4 separate regions of the Homo sapiens genome follow, and all the other regions are linked to region 1. The links come from fine-mapping of genetic effects on gene expression. A gene starts in region 1. Each other region holds a variant in brackets. All regions are shown on one strand. Distances are from middle to middle. Region 1 holds the start of AKT1 (AKT serine/threonine kinase 1). Region 2 has its middle 15 kb from the start of VESTAR. Region 3 holds the start of LOC107987209 (a long non-coding RNA gene). Region 4 holds the start of LOC124903396 (a long non-coding RNA gene).

Evidence for each region. PIP is the estimated chance that this variant, and not a neighbour inherited with it, causes the effect.
Region 2: its variant is the best candidate, but not a certain one, in a credible set for the expression of AKT1 in whole blood (INTERVAL, PIP 0.57).
Region 3: its variant is the best candidate, but not a certain one, in a credible set for the expression of AKT1 in lung (TOPMed, PIP 0.70).
Region 4: its variant is the best candidate, but not a certain one, in a credible set for the expression of AKT1 in nasal epithelium (TOPMed, PIP 0.77).

What each region holds. Positions count from the first base shown.
Region 1 is chr14:104,793,547-104,798,546 of GRCh38, forward strand. AKT1 (AKT serine/threonine kinase 1) reads right to left here and starts at 2,202. Exons shown (of 15, transcript NM_001382430.1): 1 at 1,938-2,202. RefSeq lists enhancers at 1-27, 28-667, 668-1,309, 3,351-4,123, 4,124-4,896 and silencers at 1,574-1,893, 1,924-1,973, 2,154-2,513.
Region 2 is chr14:104,833,332-104,839,105 of GRCh38, forward strand. It overlaps the pseudogene RPS2P4. Among named protein-coding and RNA genes, the nearest start is that of VESTAR, 15 kb to the left of the region's middle. RefSeq lists a silencer at 2,161-2,429. The variant G/A (reference allele first, on the strand shown) is at 2,868.
Region 3 is chr14:104,762,182-104,767,955 of GRCh38, forward strand. LOC107987209 (a long non-coding RNA gene) reads right to left here and starts at 4,768. Exons shown (of 3, transcript XR_001750915.3): 1 at 4,662-4,768. LOC102723342 (a long non-coding RNA gene) reads left to right here and starts at 2,634. Exons shown (of 3, transcript XR_429419.5): 1 at 2,634-4,716; 2 at 5,683-5,774. RefSeq lists an enhancer at 5,366-5,774. The variant A/G (reference allele first, on the strand shown) is at 2,678.
Region 4 is chr14:104,732,618-104,737,617 of GRCh38, forward strand. It overlaps ADSS1 (adenylosuccinate synthase 1), which reads left to right. Exons shown (of 13, transcript NM_152328.5): 2 at 2,403-2,505. LOC124903396 (a long non-coding RNA gene) reads right to left here and starts at 4,897. Exons shown (of 3, transcript XR_007064365.1): 1 at 4,661-4,897; 2 at 3,908-3,998; 3 at 1,951-2,524. The variant T/C (reference allele first, on the strand shown) is at 2,642.

The DNA.
Region 1 (5,000 bases):
GACAAGTCCGTCAGTGAGGAGCACCCAGTCCAGGGTGGTTACAGACCCATAATTACAGCAGTCGGGAGGCAGCAAGTAAGTGGGGGAGCACTGGACAGGCCCCCGCCCTGCAGCGGCCCACCAGCCAACCCTCACCTGAGCACACTTTATCCATTGATCCTGCATGGCTTCCTCATTTCCCCTCTGATGGATGAACTCCTAGGCATCCCTCAAAACCCAGTTCCCACATCACCAACTACAGGCATCCCCAGAAAGAGCACTTCGCATGCTCTTCCTGTGAGCAGTCCTCTGCTACCCTTCCAGATGGGCCTTCCTGAGGGGAGGAGGGTCCTCTCTGGGACCTCCAGGCCAGGCAGAGACCCCTGACGACCTCTGTGGAATGGATCCCAACATGGGTCTTTCCACAGCCAGCTTAGACGCTCTCCCCCCAGGCCACCTTTCTGGCCTCCCGAGGCAAGGGCTGGACACCCACAAAGGGTTGCTTTGCACTGATTGTCTTAAGCTACACTTAGAATGGCAGGAAGGCCCACTGCCTTGTGTCTAATGCCAGGACAGGGAAGACCACACCTTACCCAAAGAGGGAAATGCCCCAAGTACTTAGCAGGATGGAAAGCAGGCCAGACTCGAGGAAGGCACCGCAGGACTCCGAGGGCAGGGCTCCGAGCCGCGCACGCCTCAGGCACAGGGGGCTCTGACGACACTGAGTGGGCGTGGCCTGGAGGCAGAGGGCTGGACTCAAAGACCTCTGGATGTCCCCCCACCCCCACACGGGCCTGAGCCCCTCCAAGGCCTGCTGCTGACAGAGTCAGACAGCTGTCCAGAGCCATGTGTAAAAATACATCTGTGCTCACACAGGGTGGTGTACGTCTGCACAGAAACGTATACACCAGGCCAGCACAGGGCTGCCTGTGGGGGCGGAGGGACCCCGACTTCCCACAGCCTCCGTACCTGCCGCCTGCCTTTACCATAAGCACATATTCTTGCTACTATTATTAAGTCACAACTTAAAAAAAAATACTCTGTTTTCGAAAGGGCTCCTCCATCTGCCTCCAGAACCCTGGTGTATGAGAAGTCTACACAGCTCCCGGGAGAGGCAACCGGACCCCCACCAACGGACTCCGTCCGCCCTTCGCTCGGATGAGGGACTCAAAGCAGTCAAGAAGTGGCCACCTGGAGCAAGGCCGAGAGACCCAGGAGTGAATGTGGGGCGGCCTCTGGCTGCAGAGCAGGGGCCCAAGCTCACCCGCTGACCAAGGCAGCACTCAGAGGCCGTCCCGACAGGACCAAGCTCGCTAGCGCCCCAGGATACTCAATCTAAGGGGCAAGCCCCAGCTGCCCTCCAAGCCTTGGCCTCTGGGATGGGCGGGCAGGACCTCCAGGGCCCACCCAAGACAGGAAGCAGTTCCGGGGCCCAGGAGGGTCACAGTCCTTTGTGGCTAGCCTGGGTACCCCGCCACCACGTACAACTTTTCGTCCGTGGGAAACGAAGTCTCCTTCCGGGGCCCTCCCACAAACTTGAAGGCCGGCCGCGGCGAGTCTTTCTCCAACCCCGGGGCACCTCCGCCGGCTGCCTCGCTGGCCCAGCGCCCGGGGAGCCCCACGGCCCGCAGGGGCACCCCGAGCCCCAGCTCCAGGCCCGGCGGCGTCCCTTCTCTCGGGTCCCGGCCTCGCCCGGCGGAGCGGCCTCCCCAAGGTCATGAGGGAGGCTGGGGCCGGCAGCCTGCACCCCCGGCGCCCGGCGTGGGGCCGCCCTCCCTTGGCCGGGCCCGCGCGCCCCGCGCCCTCCCCGCCCAGGCCCGCTCGGCCACTTCCTGCTCCCGCTCCTCCATTCTGGCGGCGCCGCGGCTCGCGCCCCGGCCCGACCGGCCGCGAACAAAGCGGCCCGGCCCGCGGGGAGGAAATCCAGGCCCGGGCGGCCACGGCGGGCGGGGACTCACCGGGCCGCCGCGTCCGGGCGCGAGCGCGGGCCTAGCCGGGCCGCGGCCTCCGGCGCCCGCCGCTCCGCATCCCCGCGGGCCGGCGCTGGGCGGGGCCGGGCTGGAGGCCGCGGCGGGCGGGGGCGCTGCTCGGGGCCGGGCCTCGCGTGCCGCCGCCGCTCGGTGCCCGGTGCCCAGCGCTCGGTGCTCGGCCGCCTGCTCCCGTCTTCGGGCCGCGCTGCGTGCGCTGGGCCAGCCGCCTGCCGCGCTCGGTCCTGCCGCCGCCGCCGGCCCGCCCTCTCCCCGCCCCGCGCCCGCCCCGCGCCCGGAGCCGCCCGCCCACATCCGCCTCCGCCGCCCGGGGCGTCCCCACCGCGCGGCCGGCGGCGAGGGCGGAGCGCGCTCGGGGAGCGCGCGGCCGGGCTGAGGGGCAGCTCCCGACGACCTGGGGCCTGGGCTGGGCCGCTAACGGAGCCCGGCCACCAGCCAGCCCGTCCCGGGGCCACGCCCTCTCTGGCCTCAGTTTCCCCGTCTGTAAAGTGACCCGGCGCTTCTGGGCTCGCTCTGCCGTGACCCTAGCAGAAGGGGCCCGAGACAGGTCAGGGACGAATCCCGGACTTCTGCCTCCGCGCGCGGGGCGGGGGTGGCTTAGGTTGACTTTCAGGCTGCCCCACTCTGGGGGGCGTGGAGGGGGCGGCCAAGAGTGACCTAAAAGGCCCAATCCCAAGACCTTGTGCCTCTGGGGGAAGTGCGGGAGGATGCCAGGACAGGAGGTCAGTTGGAGGTGGGCCTCCAAGGAGCAGGAAGGCTCCGAGGGGAGTCAACCATTCACCTAGGTACTGGCAGCTACACTCACAAAAGGGGGACTTTGCTGGGGAGTGGGAGAAGAGGGGCACACCTTGCCTGGCTCCCACCTTGAGCTGGGAGCAGACACCAGACAGAGGAGGAGCGGTGTCTAGGGTGGGCTGTGACAGCTGACAGCCCAGAGCCCTCCCTGCTGGGTGGACTTGGTCAGCCCGGACACCCAGTCCGAAGTCCACTGGGAGGCAGATGGCCCGGGTATGGAATGAGTAAGTGGGACACAGACCCCTTTCTCCTGGACACTCACAGGAGAGTGCAGGTGACTGCCACCCCGACCCCTTCCTAGCCAGAAGTTCCTCCGACAACTGCCCCTCCCCCATTCCAGAGGCCCACAGTTGATAATAACCCTTTTGTGAAAGACAGACTCTTGTGAGTTACCTTCCTGAGGCTGCTAAGTATTGGGGTTGGGGGAGCATTTTTATTTTCAGCCAGAGTGAGTTCAGCTGGCAGCAGGGGAGGGGGTGGGAGGAGATGCAGACAGAGGCAGCAGGTTCGGCCCAGTGCTCAGGACAGAGTCTGCAGCCAAAACTCGGGCTTCATCCCTGCCTCTTGGGGCTGACCAAGAGAAGGACTCTCTCCCCCTGCATGAGGGCACTCGCTCCTCAGACAGGGGACTCCCCATTCCTGCCTCTCGCCTGAGCACCTCTGCTCCCTCCCAGCTCAGACTTTGTAACCCCAGGAAGGGCCCACCTCCAGGGGGCCAAGTCAGAGGCCCAGTGGTCTGCGCCGCTTGGGTGGGATACCTGACACAAGGGTTGCCCCCAGAGCCTGGGCGTCTGGTGTCTGTCTCTCACCCAGCAAACCTGCACCATGAGCCACCTGGGGCTCCCTCTGGGACTGTCCCACCTGCCCACTGCTCCCCGAGGAAGAGTTCCTGGTATCTGTCCACCATCCTGGGCTCTGCCATGCAAGGATGGAGGAAGGAATTCAGGGAGGAAGCAGAGGGTAAGAGGGCCATGAGACAAGGCCAGCAAGTGGCCGAGGCTTGGGGATGTGGGAGGGAGCAGGGCACCCTCTCATGGAAGAGGCAGTGACATTGCGGGCTGTTCTTGAAGTGGTTGGACCTCTTGCTTATTTTGCACTGGCTGTCTCCAAGGAGGCCTCCCAGTCTTCCCAGCCTGGTGCCCTGGCATCTGCTGGTGCCTGCAACCCACTGTGGGCCCCACACTCCAGTCCTGTCTTCACCTTGGCATGAACTGCCCTCCCCCAAGACGGGGATCTCCCAGTGGGCAGGGCCATCTCCCTCTCCTCCAGCGTCCCAGAGGGAAAGCAGAGTCCTCTCTTCAAGAACACCCCCTCCCACCCCAGACAGAATGGTCAGGAGAGAACCCAGCCCCACGGCTGCTGCTGGGACTGCTGAGGTGCTCTGTGGCCAGATGTTTCCGACAAAAACTGCTGCACCAGGGAAGGGCCCGACGGCTGCCTCCTCCCAGAGCTCAGGGGCCTCCTGCCCTGTCACCTTCTGCAGCTGCTGGCCGGGGGCAGGACTCGAGGGCCCTGGGCTGTGTAGGTCCCAGCAGCAGCTGCAGGGCGGGGCCTCAGGGCAGCTCCCAGGCCAGATGGCCGCCTGAGTCTGCAGAGGTTCTGCCTGAACCACCACCGCCGCGACAGTGGCTGTGTGACGGTGTCCTGTCATTCCTGCACTTGAGACCCAGCCAGTCACAGGGGCTCTGAGGACTACAGGCTGGCCAGGATCCCAGCACCAACTCTGGGCGGTCTCTGCCTGGAACAGCCCCCCTTCCCTGATCGGTGTGGGGCAGGAGGGACTTGAACCCAGACATCCCGACCTGAGAGGGATAAGGAGCTTCTCTCCCACTGTCCCCTCCCCTTCATCTAGCCCATTCCTAGCTGGGCCCTCCTTCCAGGTCCTACCCTAGGCTCCTGAAGGCAGCATCCTGACCCTCCCTGTGTACCACAACCCCCATTAAGTGTCCAGGCTCTCTCTGTCCCGCCAGCCAGGCAGGGCAGGCTAGGGTGCTTGCTCCCAGCCTGCAGTGGGGAGCTGTCAGCCTGTTGCCCAGAGCCCCAGTGTGGCAGGCCACCCCTACTTGCTCTGAAGGTTCAGGGGCTGGGGGTGTGGGCAGGCAGGGCTGGAATGTTGCCACAGAGGAGTCAGGATTAGGGATGGTGGGACCATCGTAATCACTCACAGAAGCAACCGTCACACATTCACTCAACAAACATTTACTGAACACCCACTTGCGTCCTGCCAACTTTTAAGCA
Region 2 (5,774 bases), 40 kb after region 1:
ATTACAGGCATGAGCCACCGTGCCCAGCCAGTGCATATGTGTTTCTAGTTATTATATCTTCCTTATGGATCACCCTCTTATCATTATAACACATCCTTCTTTGTCTCTAACAATAATTTTTGTCTTAATATCTATATTTTCTAATATTAGTAGAGGAACTCCACCTCTCTTTGAGTTGCTGTTTGAATGTTATATCTTTTCCTGTCATTTTACTTTGTTTTTTGGACGGAGTCTCGCTCTGTCGCCCGGGCTGGAGTGCAGTGGTGCAATCTTGGCTCCCTGCAAGCTCTGCCTCCCAGGTTCACGCCATTCTCCTGCCTCAGCCTCCCGAGTAGCTGGGACTACAGGTGCCCGCCACCACGCCCAGCTAATTTTTGTATTTTTAGTAGAGACGGGGTTTCACCGTGTTAGCCAGGATAGTCTCGATCTCCTGACCTCATGATCCGCCCGCCTCGGCCTCCCAAATTGCTGGTATTACAGGCATGAGCCACCGCGCCCGGCCTCCTGTCATTTTACTTTTAAGATATTGTGTCTGAATCTAAACTGTGTCTCTAGTAGCCATCATGTTTTATACCTAGCAGATATAGTTGGATTATGTTTTTTAAATCTATTCTGCCAATCTTTTTCTTTTAATTAGTGTTTAATATATTAATATTTACTATAATTACCAGTGGTGGGATTGAGGTCTGCCATTGTGCTATTTGTTTTCTCTCTGTCTTGCCTGTTTTGTTCCTCCTCTATTCCTCCATATTGCTTCTTTTGTGTTAAATATATATTCTCTAATGTGCCATTTAATTCTTTTTTTTTTTTTTTTTTTGAGACAGAGTCTCGCTCTGTTGCCCAGGCTGGAGTGCAGTGACACAATCTTGGCTCACTGCAAGCTCCACCTCCCAGGTTCATGCAATTCTTCTGCTTCAGCCTCCCGAGTAGCTGGGACTACAGGTGGGTGCCACCACCCCTGGCTAATTTTTTTTTGTATTTTTAGTAGAGACGGGTTTTCTCCATATTGGTTAGGCTGGTCTCGAACTCCTGACCTCGTGATCCACCTGCCTTGGCCTCCCAAAGTGCTGGGATTACAGGCGTGAGCCACCACGGCCAGCCTCCATTTAATTCTTTTGTCATTTCTTTTGCTATATATATTTTCAAATTTATGTTTTATTGAGGTAAAATTTACATAACATAAATTTTGCCCAGGCGTGGTGGGTCACGCCTGTAATCCCAGCACTTTGGGAGGCCAAGGTGGGCTGATCACCTGAGGTCAGGAGTTCAAGACCAGCCTGGCCAACATGGTGAAACCCCGTCCCTCCTAAAAAATACAAAAAAAATTAGCCAGGCGTGGTGGCGAGCGCCTGTAACCCCAGCTACTTGGGAGATTGAGGCAGGGGGAATTGCTTAAACCCAGGAGGTGGAGGCTGTAGTGAGCTGAGATTGTGCCACTGCACCGTGGCCTGGGCGACAGAGCGAGACTCCATCTCAAAACCAAACAAACAAACAAAAATTTACCACTATAACCGTTTTAAGTGTACAATTTAGTGGCATTAAGTACATCCACAATGTTATGTAATCATCACCACTATTTCCAGAACTTTTTTGTCATCCCAAATTCTGTGCCCATTAAGCAATAAGTCCCTCTCCCTCCCTTCCCTCTAGGCCTGGTAACCTCTATTCTAGTTTCTGTCTCTATAAACTTGCCTATTCCAGATGTGTCATATAAGTGGAATCATATAATATTGGAACTTTAATGTCTGGCTTATTTCACTTAGTAGAATGTTTTCAAATTCTCCCATATTGTAGCATGCCTCAGAACTTCATTCCTTCTTATGGCTGAAGCATATTCCATTTATGTGTTTAGACCACATTTTGTTTATTCTTTTATCTGTTGATGGATACTTGGCTTGTTTCCACATTTGGCTATTGTAAATAATGCGTTATGAACATCGGTGAGCAAGTATCTGTGTGATTCCTCCTTTTCAGTTCTTTTTTTGTTTCTTTGTTTTTTGAGACGGAGTCTTGCTCTGTAGCCCAGGCTGGAGTGCAGTGGCCCCATCTCGGCTCACTGCAAGCTCCGCCTCCCAGGTTCACGCCATTCTCCTGCCTCAGCCTCCCATGTAGCTGGGACTACAGGTGCCCGCCACCACGTCCGGCTAATTTTTTGTATTTTTTAGTAGAGACGGGGTTTCACGTGTTAGCCAGGATGGTCTCGATCTCCTGACCTCGTGATCCGCTCGCCTCGCAAAGTGCTGGGATTACAGGCATGAGCCACTGTGCCCGGCCAAGGGTTTTAATTTCTTACTACCCTTACCAGCATTTGTTATTTTGCTTCTTTTGAAAAAATTATAGCCATCCCAATGGGTGTGACATGGTATTTCATTGTGGTTTTATTTTGCATCTCCCTAGTGACTGATGATGTTGAACATTTTTTGTGTGTGCTTGTTGACCATTTATCTGTCTTCTTTGGGGAAAGGTCCATTCAAGTACTTTGTTTATTTGTAAATTAGGTTGTTTAGGGAGTTTTTGTTTCGGAGTTACAGCAATTCTAATATGCTGCATATTAATATCCTATCAGATATAGGATTTGCAAATATCTCATTTTGTGAGTTGCCATTCTACTCTTTTTTTTTTTTTCAGGCTTAATTCACTTTACTTCTCTTGTATAAAAACCCTATGTTGTAGCCACAGCAGGAGCCTGGGTCCACTGCACGGAGACTCTGGTGTGGGTCTTGACGAGGTGGTCAGTGAATTCCTGATAGGGAGACTTGGTGAATACAGTCTCCTTCCAGAGGTTGGGGGTCAGGTAGCTGTAGGTCTTAGAGATGGCATCAAAGGTGGCCTTGGCGAAGTTGCCCAGGGTGGCAGTGCAGCCCCGG[G/A]CTGAGGTGTAGCAGTCATCGATACCAGCCATCATGAGCAGCTTCTTGGGCACAGGTGCGGAGACGATGCCAGTGCCCCCGTGTGCAGGGATGAGGCGCGCCGGCACAGAGCCGCAGCGGCCTGTCACCTTGCAAGGGACGGTGTGGGGCTTGCCGATCTTGTTCCCCCAGTAGCCTCTGTGCACAGGGACAATGGAGAGCTTGGCCAGGATGATGGCCCCACGGATGGCGGTGGCCACCTCCTTGGAGCACTTAACACCCAGACCGACGTGGCCATTGTAGTCTCCGATAGCAAAGAACGCCTTGAACCTGGTGCGCTGGCCGGCACGGGTCTGCTTCTGCACCAGCATAATCTTCAAAACCTCATCCTTGAGAGAGGCCCCCAGGAAAACGTCAATGATCTCAGATTCCTTAATGGGCAGGGAAAAGAGATAGATCTCCTCCAGGGACTTGATCTTCATCTCCTTGACCAAGCGGCCCAGCTTGGTGACAGGCATCCACTCCTTATCCTCAGCCTTGCCTCCGCGAGCTCCGCAGCCTTGGCCCTGGCCCCGTCCACGGCCGCGACCCCGGCCCCGGATGCCACTGCCGAAACCTCCGCGGAAGGCACCACGGTTCCCCATCCCAGGGCCACCAGGGCCTCCGGCACCCCCCCCCCCCCCCCCTGCACCGGCGTCATCCGCCATTTGGTGTTTTCTCAGACAAGAAGCGCCATTCTACTCTTTTTAAAAATTCTTTTTATTGTTTTTTAAATTTTTTTATTATACTTTAAGTTCCAGGGTACATGTGCACAACGTGCAGGTTTGATACATAGGTATACATGTGCCATGTTGGTGTGCTGCACCCATCAACTCGTCATTTACATTAGGTATTTCTCCTAATGCTATCTATCCCCCTCCAGCCCCCCAACCCCCAACAGGCCCCAGTGTGTGATGTTCCTCGCCTTGTGTTCAAGTGATCTCATTGTTCAATTCCCACCTATGAGTGAGAACATGTGGTGTTTGGTTTTCTGTCCTTGTGATAGTTTGCTGAGAATGATGGTTTCCAGCTTCATTCATGTCCCTGTAAAGGAAATGAACTCATCCTCTTTTATGGCTGCATAGTATTCCATGGTGTATATGTGCCACATTTTCTTAATCCAGTCTATCATTGATGGATATTTGGGTTGGTTCCAAGTCTTTGCTATTGTGAATAGTACCACAATAAACATACGTGTGCATGTGTCTTTATAGTAACATGATTTATAATCCTTTGGGTATATACCCAGTAATGGGATCACTGGGTCAAATGGTATTTCTAGTTCTAGATCCTTGAGGAATCACCACACTGTCTTCCACAATGGTTGAACTAGTTTACACTCCCACCAACAGTGTAAAAGTGTTTCTATTTCTCCACATCCTCTCCAGCACCTGTTGTGTCCTGACTTTTTAATGATCACCATTCTAACTGGTGTGAGATGGTATCTCATTGTGGTTTTGATTTGCATTTCTCTGATGGCCAGTGATGGTGAGCATTTTTTCATGTGTCTGTTGGCTGCATAAATGTCTTCTTTTGAGAAGTGTCTGTTGATATCCTTTGCCCACTTTTTAATGGGGTTATTTGTTTTTTTCTTGTAAATTTGTTTGAGTTCTTTGTAGATTCTGGATATTAGCCCTTTGTCATATGGGTAGATTGCAAAAATTTTCTCCCATTCTGTAGGTTGCCTGTTCACACTGATGGTAGTTTCTTTTGCCATGCAGAAGCTCTTTAGTTTAATTAGATCCCATCTGTCTAGTTTGGCTTTTGTTGCCATTGCTTTTGGTGTTTTAGTCATGAAGTCCTTGCCCATGCCTATGTCCTGAATGGTACTGCCTAGGTGTTCTTCTAGGGTTTTTATGGTTTTAGGTCTAACATTTAAGTCTTTAATCCATCTTGAATTAATTTTTGTGTAAGGTGTAAGGAACGGATCCAGTTTCAGCTTTCTACATATGGCTAGCCAGTTTTCCCAGCACCATTTATTAAATAGGGAATCCTTTCCCCAATGCTTGTTTTTCTCAGGTTTGTCAAAGATCAGATAGTTGTAGATATGCGGCGTTATTTCTGAGGGCTCTGTTCTGTTCCATTGGTCTATATATCTGTTTTGGTACCAGTACCATGCTGTTTTGGTTACTGTAGCCTTGTAGTATAGTTTGAAGTCAGGTAGCGTGATGCCTCCAGCTTTGTTCTTTTTAATTAGGATTGTCTTGGCAATGCAGGCTCTTTTCTGGTTCCATATGAACTTTAAAGTAGTTTTTTCCAATTCTGTAAAGAAAGTCATTGGTAGCTTGATGGGGATGGCATTGAATCTATAAATTACTTTGGGCAATATGGCCATTTTCATGATATTGATTCTTCCTATCCATGAGCATGGAATATTCTTCCATTTGTTTGTGTCCTCTTTTATTTCGTTGAGCAGTGGTTTGTAGTTCTCCTTGAAGAGGTCCTTCACATCCCTTGTAAGTTGGATTCCTAGGTATTTTATTCTCTTTGTAGCAGTTGTGAATGGGAGTTCACTTATGATTTGACTCTCTGTTTGTCTGTTAATGATGTATAGGAATGCTTGTGATTTTTGCACATCGATTTGGTATCCAGAGACTTTGCTGAAGTTGCTTATCAGCTTAAGGAGATTTTGGGCTGAGATGATGGGGTTTTCTAAATATACAATCATGTCATCTGCAAACAGGGACAATTTGACTTCCTCATTTCCTAATTGAATACCCTTTATTTCTTTCTCTTGCCTGATTGCCCTGGCCAGAACTTCCAACACTATGTTGAATAGGAGTGGTAAGACAGGGCATCCTTGTCTTGTGCCGGTTTTCAAAGGGAATGCTTCCAGTTTTTGCCCATTCAGTATGATATTGGTTGTGGGTTTGTCATAAATAGCTGTTA
Region 3 (5,774 bases), 31 kb before region 1:
ACATGCAAAGAAGCAGGAACTATACCACACAATGAGAAGAAAAGTTAGTCTGTAGAAACAGACCCAGAAATGACACAAGGTGGTAGAATAATTCCGTCTACTAAGTAGACAGGGACATCAGAATGGCCATTATTAAGAAGGATAGACGAAAACAGGAGCATGTTAAGAAAAGGAATGAAAGACATAAAAATGGCCCAAACAATTTCCAGAGACAAAAATACAATGTCTGAGATGGAAAATACACTGATGAGATTAAAACCAAAATAGACATTGCAGAGCAAAAAATTAGTGGACTTGAAGCCATTGCAATATAAGCTATCCAAAAGGGAACAGAAAAAAAATGAGGAAAATGGCAGAGCCCCTCTGAGTTGTGGGACCACTTCAAGCAGCCTACTGTGCCTTTAACTGGAGACCCATGGACGAGGGGCATAGCAGGGTGGAGACAACTTTTGGAAAAAATAACGGCAGGCCGGGCGTGGTGGCTCACGCCTGTAATCTCAACACTTTGGGAAGCTGATGCTGGCGGATCACCAGAGGTCAGGAGTTTGAGACCAGCCTGGCCAACATGGTGAAACCCTGTCTCTACTAAAAATGCAAAAATTAGCCAGGCGTGGTGGCAGGTGCTTATAATCCCAGCTACTTGGGAGGCTGAGGCAGGAGAATCGCTTGAACCCGGGAGGCGGAGGTTGCAGCAAGCTGAGATTGTGCCATTGCACTCCAGCCTGGGCAACAAGAGCGAAACTCCATCTCTAAATAAATAAATAAATAAAATAATGACTGTAAAATTTCCTAATTTGGTGGAAACATAAAGCCACAGATCCAGGAAGCTCAACAAACCCCAAAAGAAACATGGAGAAAATTACATGAAGCACATCATCATGAAATTCCTCCAAACCAGTGACAAATAAAAAAAAGCAGCCAGAGAAAAAAGACACTTTGTGTTTACAGGAACAAAGAATGGCAGCAAGACTTCTCACTAGAAACTGCAAGCAGACAGTGAACAACACCTGTGGGTTGGGCAAAGAACTTGAATAAACTTATTTATTTATTTTTTTGAGATGGAGTTTCGCTCTTGTTGCCCAGGCTGGAGTGCGGTGGCACGATCTCGCCTCACCACAACCTCCGCCTCCCTGGTTCAAGCAATTCGCCTGCCTCGGCCTCCCAAATAGCTGGGATTTCAGGCATGCGCCTCCATGCCTGCCTAATTTTGTATTTTTAGTGGAGACGGGGTTTCTCTATGTCGGTTAGGCTGGTCTCAAACTCCCAACCTCAGGTGATCTGCCTACCTCAGCCTCCCAAAGTGCTGGGATTTGTAATCCCAAGCCCAGCTTGAATAAACATTTATCCAAATTTAGTTTTGAAAGAAAAGAATGTCAACCTGGAATTCTATACCCAGTGAAAATATCTTTCAAAAGTGAAGGTGAAATAAAGACTTTTCAGACATACAAAGCTGGAAGATTTACAAAAATTGTCAAAAGAAGTTTTTCTGGCAGAAGGAAAATGACACCAGATGGAAACTGCTTGTACACAAAGATATGACGAGCACCTGAAATGGTCACTGTTTGGGAGGACACAAAAGGCAGGGTTTTTTCTGATTTTTAAAAGTGCCTGTTGTCCCAGCTACTCAGGAGATTAAGCTGGGAGAATCACTTGATAGGGGTTCAAAGCCAGCCTGGGCAACATGGCAAGACCCTGTCTTTATTTTATTTTATTTATTATTTTTTTTTTTGACAGTGTCTTGCTCTGTCACCCAGGTTGGAGTGCAGTGGCCTGATCTCGGCTCACTGCAAGCTCTGCCTCCCGGGTTCATGCCATTCTCCTGCCTCAGCCTCCTGAGTAGCTGGGACTACAGGTGCCCGCCACCACGCTCGGTGAATTTTTTGTATTTTTAGTAGAGACGAGGTTTCACCGTGTTAGCCAGGATGGTCTCAATCTCCTGACCTCGTGATCTGCCCACCTCGGCCTCCCAAAGTGCTGGGATTACAGGCATGAGCCACTGCGCCCAGCTGACCCTGTCTTTAAATATGTATATATATAATCTCTTTAAAAGACAATTGCCTAGGCCAGCTGCAGTGGTTCACACCTGTAATTCCAACACTTTGGGAGGCTGAGGCAGGCGAATCACCTGAGGTCAGGAGTTCAAGGTTTGGCCAACATGGCAAAAACCCATCTCTACTAAAAATACAAAAATTAGCCAGGTGTGGTGGCGGCGCACGCCTGTAATCCCAGCTATTGAGGAGGCTGAGGCAGGAGAATCCCTTGAACCCAGGAGGCAGAGGTTGCAGTGACCCGAGATCGCGCCATTGCACTCCAGCCTGGGCAACAGAGCAAGACTATCTTAATTTTAAAAAAGGCCAGGCGTGGTGGCTCATGCCTGTAATCCCAGCACTTTGGGAGGCTGATGCTGGCAGATCACCTGAGGTCAGGAGTTCGAGACCAGCCTGACCAACATGGTAAAACCCTGTCTGTACTAAAAATACAAAAAAAAAAAAATTAGCTGGGCATGGTGGTGGGCGCCTGTAATCCCAGCTACTCAGGAGGCTGAGGCAGGAGAATCGCTTGAACCTCGGAGGCAGAGGTTGCAGTGAGCCTAGATCGCGCCATTGCACTCCAGCCTGGGTGACAGAGCGAGACTCTGTCTCAAAGAAAAAAAAAAATTTTTTTTAATTGTCTATAC[A/G]GATGCTCCTCAGCTTACAATGGGTTACATCCAGATAAATCCATCACGAGTTGAAAATATTGTTAAGGGCCAGGCGCAGTGGCTCATGCCTGTAATCCCAGCACTTTGGGAGGCCGAGGCGGGTGGATCACGAGGTCAGGAGATAGAGACCATCCTGGCTAACACAGTGAAACCCCGTGTCTACTAAAAATACAAAAAATTAGCCGGGCGTGTTGGCAGGCTCCTGTAGTCCCAGCTACTCGGGAGGCTGAGGCAGGAGAATGGCATGAACCCAGGAGGCAGAGCTTGCAGTGAGCCGAGATCGCGCCACTGCACTCCAGCCTGGGTGACAGAGCGAGACTCCGTCTCAAAAAAAAAAAAAAAAAAAAAAAAGAAAATATTGTTAAGGAGCATACTGAATGTGTATAGCTTTTGCAACATTGTAAAGTTGAAAAATTATAAGTTTAACCATTGTAAGTCAGGGACCATCTATACATAAAGAACTCCTAACACGCAGCAATTAAAAAAAAAATCCAAAAATGGGCAAAGGACTTGAGTAAACATTTGTCCAAAGAATATATAAAAACAGCACACACATGAAAAGATGCTCAACATCACTGATTATCAGGGAAATGCAAATCAAAACCACAATGAGATACCACCTCACACCCATCAAGATAGCTACTATTTGAAAATAAAACAAGTGTCGGGGAGGATATGGAGAAATTGGAACATTTGTGCACTGCCGGTGGGAATGTGAAATGGTGCAGCCAGTGCAGAAAACAGTAGGCAGTTCCTCAAAACACTAAACATAAGCCTGGCACAGTGGCTAATGCCTGTAATCCTAGTGGTTTGGAAGGCTGAGACAGGAGGATCACTTGAGCCCAGGAGTTTGAGACCAGCCTGGGCAACATAGTGAGACTATGTCTCAAAAAAATGAAAGGAAAATTAAAACTGAACACAGAATTACTGTTTGATCCAGCAATTCCACTTCTGGGTACAGACACAAAATAATTGACAGCAGGGACGTGAACAGGTATTTGTACACAAGTTTGTAGCAGCATTATCCCCAGTAGCCAAAAGATGGAAACAACCCAAATGTTCATCACAGGACAAATGAATAAACAAAATGTGGTCTATACATGCAATAAAATAGTATTCAGCCTTAAAAAGAAATAAAATTCTGACATGCTACAACACAAATGAACCTTAAAGATACTATGACTGAGTGAAATAAGCCAGACACAAAAAGACAAACACTGCATGATCTCACGTATATGAAATCCCCAGAGGGCTGGGGAGCTACATTCATTCATTTATTCAAAATATATTTATTCTAAATGCAACACAGTATCCTGGATTGTATGTGTATACTGGAATAGAAAAAGAACATCAGTGGGAAAACTGGTAAAATCCAAAAAATAAGCCAATAAAGGAGATAAAATGAGACAATCGGCAATACTTATTTAATACAAAAAAAGGAAAGGAAAGGAGGAACAAAGAACAAATGGAATGTATAGAAAAAGAGCAAGATAGTACATTTAAGCTCAACCATATCAATAGTTGCATTAAATGTAAATGGTCTAGACACCTTAATTAATGGGCAATGATTGTTAGACTTTTTTTTTTAAATAACAACAAAAACCCTACATGCTGTCAGCCCCTTCTGTAGCTCTTTCCCAGACTTGCTAGAAGCAAAAGGATGAAATAATTATCTGTTGTATGATAAAGTCAGCCTTTGAACAGACATTCACTGGAAGTGACATCTTCTGGGAAGGCAGGCCTAGCCCTTATCCTGACATGCCCCAGTAGCACTCTCAGCTCCTGGGACCTCGTCTACAACATTGAGGCCCCCAGACCCAGAGACCTGCAGAGCCTTCAGTTACCCACACCTGCTGAAACATGGGAGGTCTAAGTGCTCAAGTCACTTTTATTATCTTCCTCCCTTCCAGGCCGGCCTTGTGCTGGAAAGAGCATGATGTGGGCATGTGAGAAACAAACTCACCCATCCACACCCGAAGAATGGACTCAGAGACCTCAGAGACCGGAGAACAGCAAAAGTGAGACTTTTAATGATAGTCTTGCAAGATTGGGTGCCTGATGAGCTGGCACACCCAGCACAGTTTCAACAAGCAATTTATCCCCTAGTGTGCAGGTCCCTCCCCCGGTTCTTCATAGGCTGAGTACTATGGGGTCACAACCTTCCTGGACGTCACCTATTGGTTGTTGGGCAGGGGCTTTAGGTGTTTTCTTTAGAGTTGTCTTGCTGCATTCTGTTGCAGCCCACAATGCATTGCAATCCTAGTTAGCTCAGGGGCTCTTCAAATATTTGACTTCTGACCTAAGTAGCTGGGCAGGCTGATACGAACAGACAAAGCGAGCTATTTTGGAGGCTAGTAAACTTTCATTTTAGACTAAACTTTGGTTCAGGTGAGGGAAACTAAGGGACGGGGGCTGGCGGTGACAAACAGGCGTTGGCTATCCAAGCAGGGGCCTAGTATATCCTGTTGCTTCCGTAGTTTGCTGACCTAAGCTGATTTTAGGCACTTTGTCTTGGAAATGGACACTTTATGCATTGTTTCCTTCGGGGTACCTCTGACACAGGAAGGAGAGCTTCCTCTTGGTTGGCGTATTCCTGTTACAACCTCTCCAGACAGCCCTCGCTGTTCGGCAGGCCCTGTTGGGGCTGCAGGATCCTGGCCCTCTCCACCCGCTCTGGCCTCGCTGGCCAGGACTGGACTGCCCCTTGCAAGGGCACCTGCACCTCCTGGAGTTTCCTCTCTGAGATGTGCATCTCCTTGCACATCTCACCCCTCACTGACACCCTCCACCCCACTCCTGGGATGCTGCCTCCTGCTGTAGATGGTTCTGTCTGGGGCTGCTAGGAGGGTCGGGAAATTCTCAGAGGGTCTCCATTTCTGCGTTCATTTTGTTAGGTCCTCAGCCACTTGTAACGGGGACATAACACAGGGTCATGTCTGTATTAATGCCAATGACGTTGAAGCCTCTCTCTCTCTGGACTATAGAACTATCCCTAAGAGGCCAGGTGTGGTGGCTCACACCTTATAATCCCAACGTTTTGGGAGGACAAGGCAGGAGGATCACTTGAGGCCCGGAG
Region 4 (5,000 bases), 61 kb before region 1:
TAGCAGGGCGTTCCTGGGCCTGTTGACGTGGGCACTGGGCACTCTGCCATGGTAGGCAGCACTTGGCCTGACTGCCAGGTCATCCCTCGACGCCTGCCCCCCCGCCCAGGCGGGGCTGTGTACAAGGGATAGGCTTCCCTTCTCTCAGTTTCCCTACCTGTCCTCAGAGACCTCACCCCTGACTGCCCCCAAAAGGCAGCAGATGCAGTCGTGGGCATGAAGGTACTCCATGACCCCAGCGGAGAGGAATTACCACATATGTGCCGAGGCAAGGACAGAGTAAGAGTGGGGGTCTCCAGGAGGGTGCTGTGACCCCCAAACCCAGAATCTGTTCGAGTCACGCCAGGGCCTGCCCCGTCCCGATGGACTGAACCTGTGCGCCCAGGGCTGACTCAGCGTCTGCTGAGCAGCACAGGCTGAGAGCCCTGCCCATCCGCCCAGGCTGCAGAAGTACCCTGACCCTCCACCCCCACCCTGCCTTGGCGCCTGGCAGCATTAGCTCCCACAAGGCCTCCAGGTGCCCTCAGACCACCCTCCCTCCTGCCACCAGGCTTCCTGCATCTCTCCACCTCCCAGGATCCCCACCCAGTTCACCCAGCACCGCCCCGCCCAGAGCCACTGTCCTGAACTGGTTTCCTATAAGGACTGGGCCCAGCCAGGCAGGGCCAGGCAGAAGTCAGGGCGTGGAGGTGGGGACTCCTGCCCTGCGAAGGGGCTTCAGGGCTCTGAGTGCTGCCTAATCTGCCAGTGTGTGAAGTTACGTCCCAGGAGGGTGAGCCCCCTGCCTGGCATCTCTGGATCTGCCCCCCCTCTGTCCCCAGGGTTGCCCTGCCACGAGGCGCCGGGGCTGTTTCCGTGTAACTCTTGTCCAGATGCATCGTGAGGAGCTAGTGCAGAGGGAGGGGGCCGCCATCACGGAGGGTCCTGCTTGGGCAGGCGGGGAAAGGCTATGTGAGACACCCCACTGCCAGGCTTGTGAGGGTGGGAGGGGAGCTGAGACCCCTCTGCCGGGCAGAGAGCAGTGGGGTGTGGCTGGGAGAATCCCCCATGCGTAGACAAGTTGAGGGCTTTTCTGCCGGGAGGTGAGGCAGGAAGGTGGGGCTGGATCTGGGCTCTGGGGTCCTGGGGACAGAGTGGGCCCCAAAAGGGAAGTAGTGAAGGAGAGACCAGACCAGTCTGTGGGGCAGGGTATCCGTGTGTGGCCCCCCGCAACCCCACCGGGACCCTGCTTACCCTCCAGGTGGAGCTCAAGGAGAGAGGGCAACAGGAAGGGTCCCCCATGCCATCCAGTGGCTGGCCAGAAGTGGGGCTGGAGACCTGGCCTTCTCTCCTGGGGCAGAGACCTTCTGGGGCTCCCTCCAGGCTCTGTCACACTGGGCCTACAGGGGTCTCTTATGGTGGCATAAAGACCAAAAGGTGCTGTAGGGATATCCCTTGCCGTTGGTGGGGGCCTGGCTTCAGGGGCAATGAGCCATCATGGGCCATCAGAGATGCTGCCTCTTCCTCAGCTGTGAAGCGGGGCCTCCTGCCTGCACGTAGGGGAGCCCTATCAGCCGTGCCTTGGGACTGGAGTGTCCCTGTATCCATCATGCCACCAGCCCACCTGCCCTGCAGGAGCAGAGGGTGGGGGCAGCAGGGGACACCCACTGGACCTGTGCCCTGCTGAGCAGAGCCAAGCAAAAGGCAGGAGGGCTTTGGTTCTTGCCCCACCTGGAGAGGGTCCCTAGCTTATCCTCTAGCTTCCACTGGCACAAGAGGCCCTTGGGGAAGCGAAGGCAGTGGCATCCAGGGCGTGGCACAGTTTGCTTGTATCATGTGGCTGTCTCATGGCAGGAGGGGGATTGGAGCCTGCACATGCTAGTCCCAGGCCCTCTCCCCACCATCAGCAGGAATCCCCCCAGAGAGGGGAGCCTGTGGCTGGGTGTTTCCCAGAACAGGGCTGGCTCAGAATGGCTTTTTCTTTTTCATTCTTAGACGGGAGGTGCCTGCCCAAAGGGAAGGGTTTCTGCTAAAGTGGGTGAGGGCAGGTTTGGCCGTGGGGGTGCTGAATTCATGTTCTGTGGGAGGGTTAGGCCTCCTCATTCCTGCATGAGAGGAGCGAGCTCCAGAGCGGGGCCCGCAGCTGCAGAGACCTGCACCAAGCCACCTGGAGGTGTTGGCACCAGCCTGGGCCAGACCCTCCCCGACCCAGGCCCCTGACCAAACTGCTGCCCTCCTTCCAAGGTGCAGGATGCCCACATCCCAGTCCCGCACAGACGCATCAGAGCTGGCCACCAAACCAGACACCCCAAAATCCAACAGCAGTGCCCTGCAGGGACAGACGAAGCCCCATGTGGGTCAGTCCATGTCCGGGGGGTCCTCAGTACCCAAGTGCCTTCAGCTCAGCCGGGTTTCTGTTCCAGGGGGGCAACAACGCCGGCCACACGGTGGTGGTGGATGGGAAAGAGTACGACTTCCACCTGCTGCCCAGCGGCATCATCAACACCAAGGCCGTGTCCTTCATTGGTGAGTGCCCTGCCCCGACCTGTGTGTGAGCAGGAAAGGGGGTGTCAGCCAGCCCAGGAGCCCCACGCATGGGGGCACGGGGCACCAGAGCCTGGTGATGACTGCTCTAGCAGTAGGCTGGACCCCAGCCTCCACC[T/C]GCCCCACCAGGCACTGGTGCACAGAAACCTGCATAGCCCGGGCCTGGGCTGGGAACGCAGCTGAGAGGACACAGGGCTGATGGGAGGAGGGGCAGAGTCACATCCACCGCGCAGGAGCGGGAGTGCCTGATCCCTGATCCCTGATCCCTGATCCCTCACATGCACATACTTCCTGTGTGGGCATGGAGACCACACGCCCATGTGCCCGTGACTCCATGTGCATACCTGTGAGTGAGTATGTGCTTGCGACAGGCCTGGCTTCTCGCTGCGTGGCGACCAGGCTGTGTGGACAAGGCCGTGCCCTCCCCGGCCCTGCCGAGCCATGTGGCCGTCCTCTTGCCTGGGCTGCTGTGGCCACGTGGCAGGCCTGGTTCCAGCCCCTTCCCAGTCCGTGCTGCAGAGGGACCTCCTTCCACATCGCCTGCCCCCTCCTGGGTCCGGACACAGCTCCTCCCCTGCAGCCACCTGTGACCACTCAGTGCTCCAAGAGGCGAGCCACCTCTGTCCCCAGGGTTCCGTGGCTCTTTCCCTCCTTCTCTCGGTCAGAAGCCTGCTCTGTGCACCCTGGCCTCAGCTCTTAGCCCAAAACCCCCTTGCTCAGAGAAGCTTTTCCTGATCCCAGTGGCCAAGCCAGCCAGGCCCCTTCTTGTACTTTCCCTTCCAGCTGTTTCCAGACTTCAGCAAGGCCATCCTTGTGATGTATCTGACCCCTTCCCAGCCCGTCAGGAAGTGGGGGTCAGGCGCCTCAGGTGTGTGCCCAGCAGATGCATGGGCCTGGACCCATTCAATGTGAGCAGAGGGAGGAAGATAGCGCGGAGGTGGCTGCCGCAGGGGCCATGTGTGGTCAGGGGCTGAGCTGGAGTGACTCACCCAAGACCATCCCCTGGGGTGCAGACCCAGTCCCTGGCCCTCCCAGCAGTGGGGCCAGGACAGTGTGGGGGCGGTCCCTAGTTCACAGCAGGGAGGCCCTAAGCAGTGAGGTGGCCTGCCCGCCATGTCGCAGGAGCCCCTAGCCCTGGCAGACTGGGCAGTAGCGCTGGCTGGCCGCTCCGGGTTGTGCTGCAGGAAGCCCTTCTCCAGCCGCCAGCCTCGTCCTGCCCAGCCCTGGGCCCCACATGGCAGGAAACAAGGCCAAAGAGGCACCGCTTAGCAAGCGGCAGGACGTGCCAGGGCTCACACAGACACCCTGAGCTTGCAACACTCCGGGCCTCTGCCGCGTGTTTATTTCAGGATGCCGTGGCATTTGGGTGACCTTTTGTGCTCACCATGGCTTGCGTCGTCTCCGGGTCACTCTCGTCTGGACTGAAGTCCCGTCTCCCTCAGCTGAGCCTGTGCCATGGCCAGCCTCAGCGGGAACTGGCAAAGGGAAAGGGGTTCCTTGGGGAGGCAGCAGGGGTTTCTGAAGGCTTCATCTTCAAGCAAGGGGTTTAGAGCTCAGGAGTGTATTTGTGTTTTTTTGTTTTTTGTTTATTTTGAGACAGGGTCTGGCTGTGTCACTCAGGCTGGAATGCAATGGCACAGTCCTGGCTCACTGCAGCCTCAACCTACTGGGCCCAGGGGATCCCCCTGCCTCTGTCTCCCAAGTAGCCAGGACTACAGGCTTATGCCACCGCACCTAGCTGATATATATATATATATATATATATATATATATGCATTTTTTTTTTTTTAGAAATGGAGTCTTGCTGTGTTACCCAGGCTGGCCTCCAACTCCTGGCCTCAGGCAATCCTCCTGCCTCAGCATCACAAAATGTTGGGATTATAGGCATGAGCCACCATGCCCCACCAGAGCGGTGCATTTGTGACAATCGATGAACCTACACTGACAGGTCATGATCACCCAGAGTACATAGTCACCTCTGGGTTCACACTTGGTGCTGTACATTCTACCAGTCTGGACAAACGTATGCTGTGTATCTGCCACTATAGTATCGTACAGAATTTTTTACTGTCCTAAAACCCCCGAGCTCCACCCATTTCATTCATCTCTCCCCCCTCAACCCTCGGCAGCCACTCACCTTATGCTGTCTCCTCAGTTTTGCCTTTTCCAGAATCTCAGAGTTGGAATTGTACAGTATGTCGCCTTTTCGGATTGGCTTCTTTCACTCAGTAACATGCATTTAACTTTCCTCTATGTCTTTTCATGGCTTGAAAGCTCATTTCTTTTCAGTGTTGAATAATACTCCACTGTCTGGATGGACCACAGTTGATTTCTCCTTTTGTTTACTGATGGGCCTCTTGACTGCTGCCGAGTTTCGGCGATTATGAATAGAGCTGCACATCTACGCGCAGGTTTCTGCAGGGACATCAATTTCCAGCTCCTTAAATACCGAGGAATGTGTTTTGCATCCATCACCA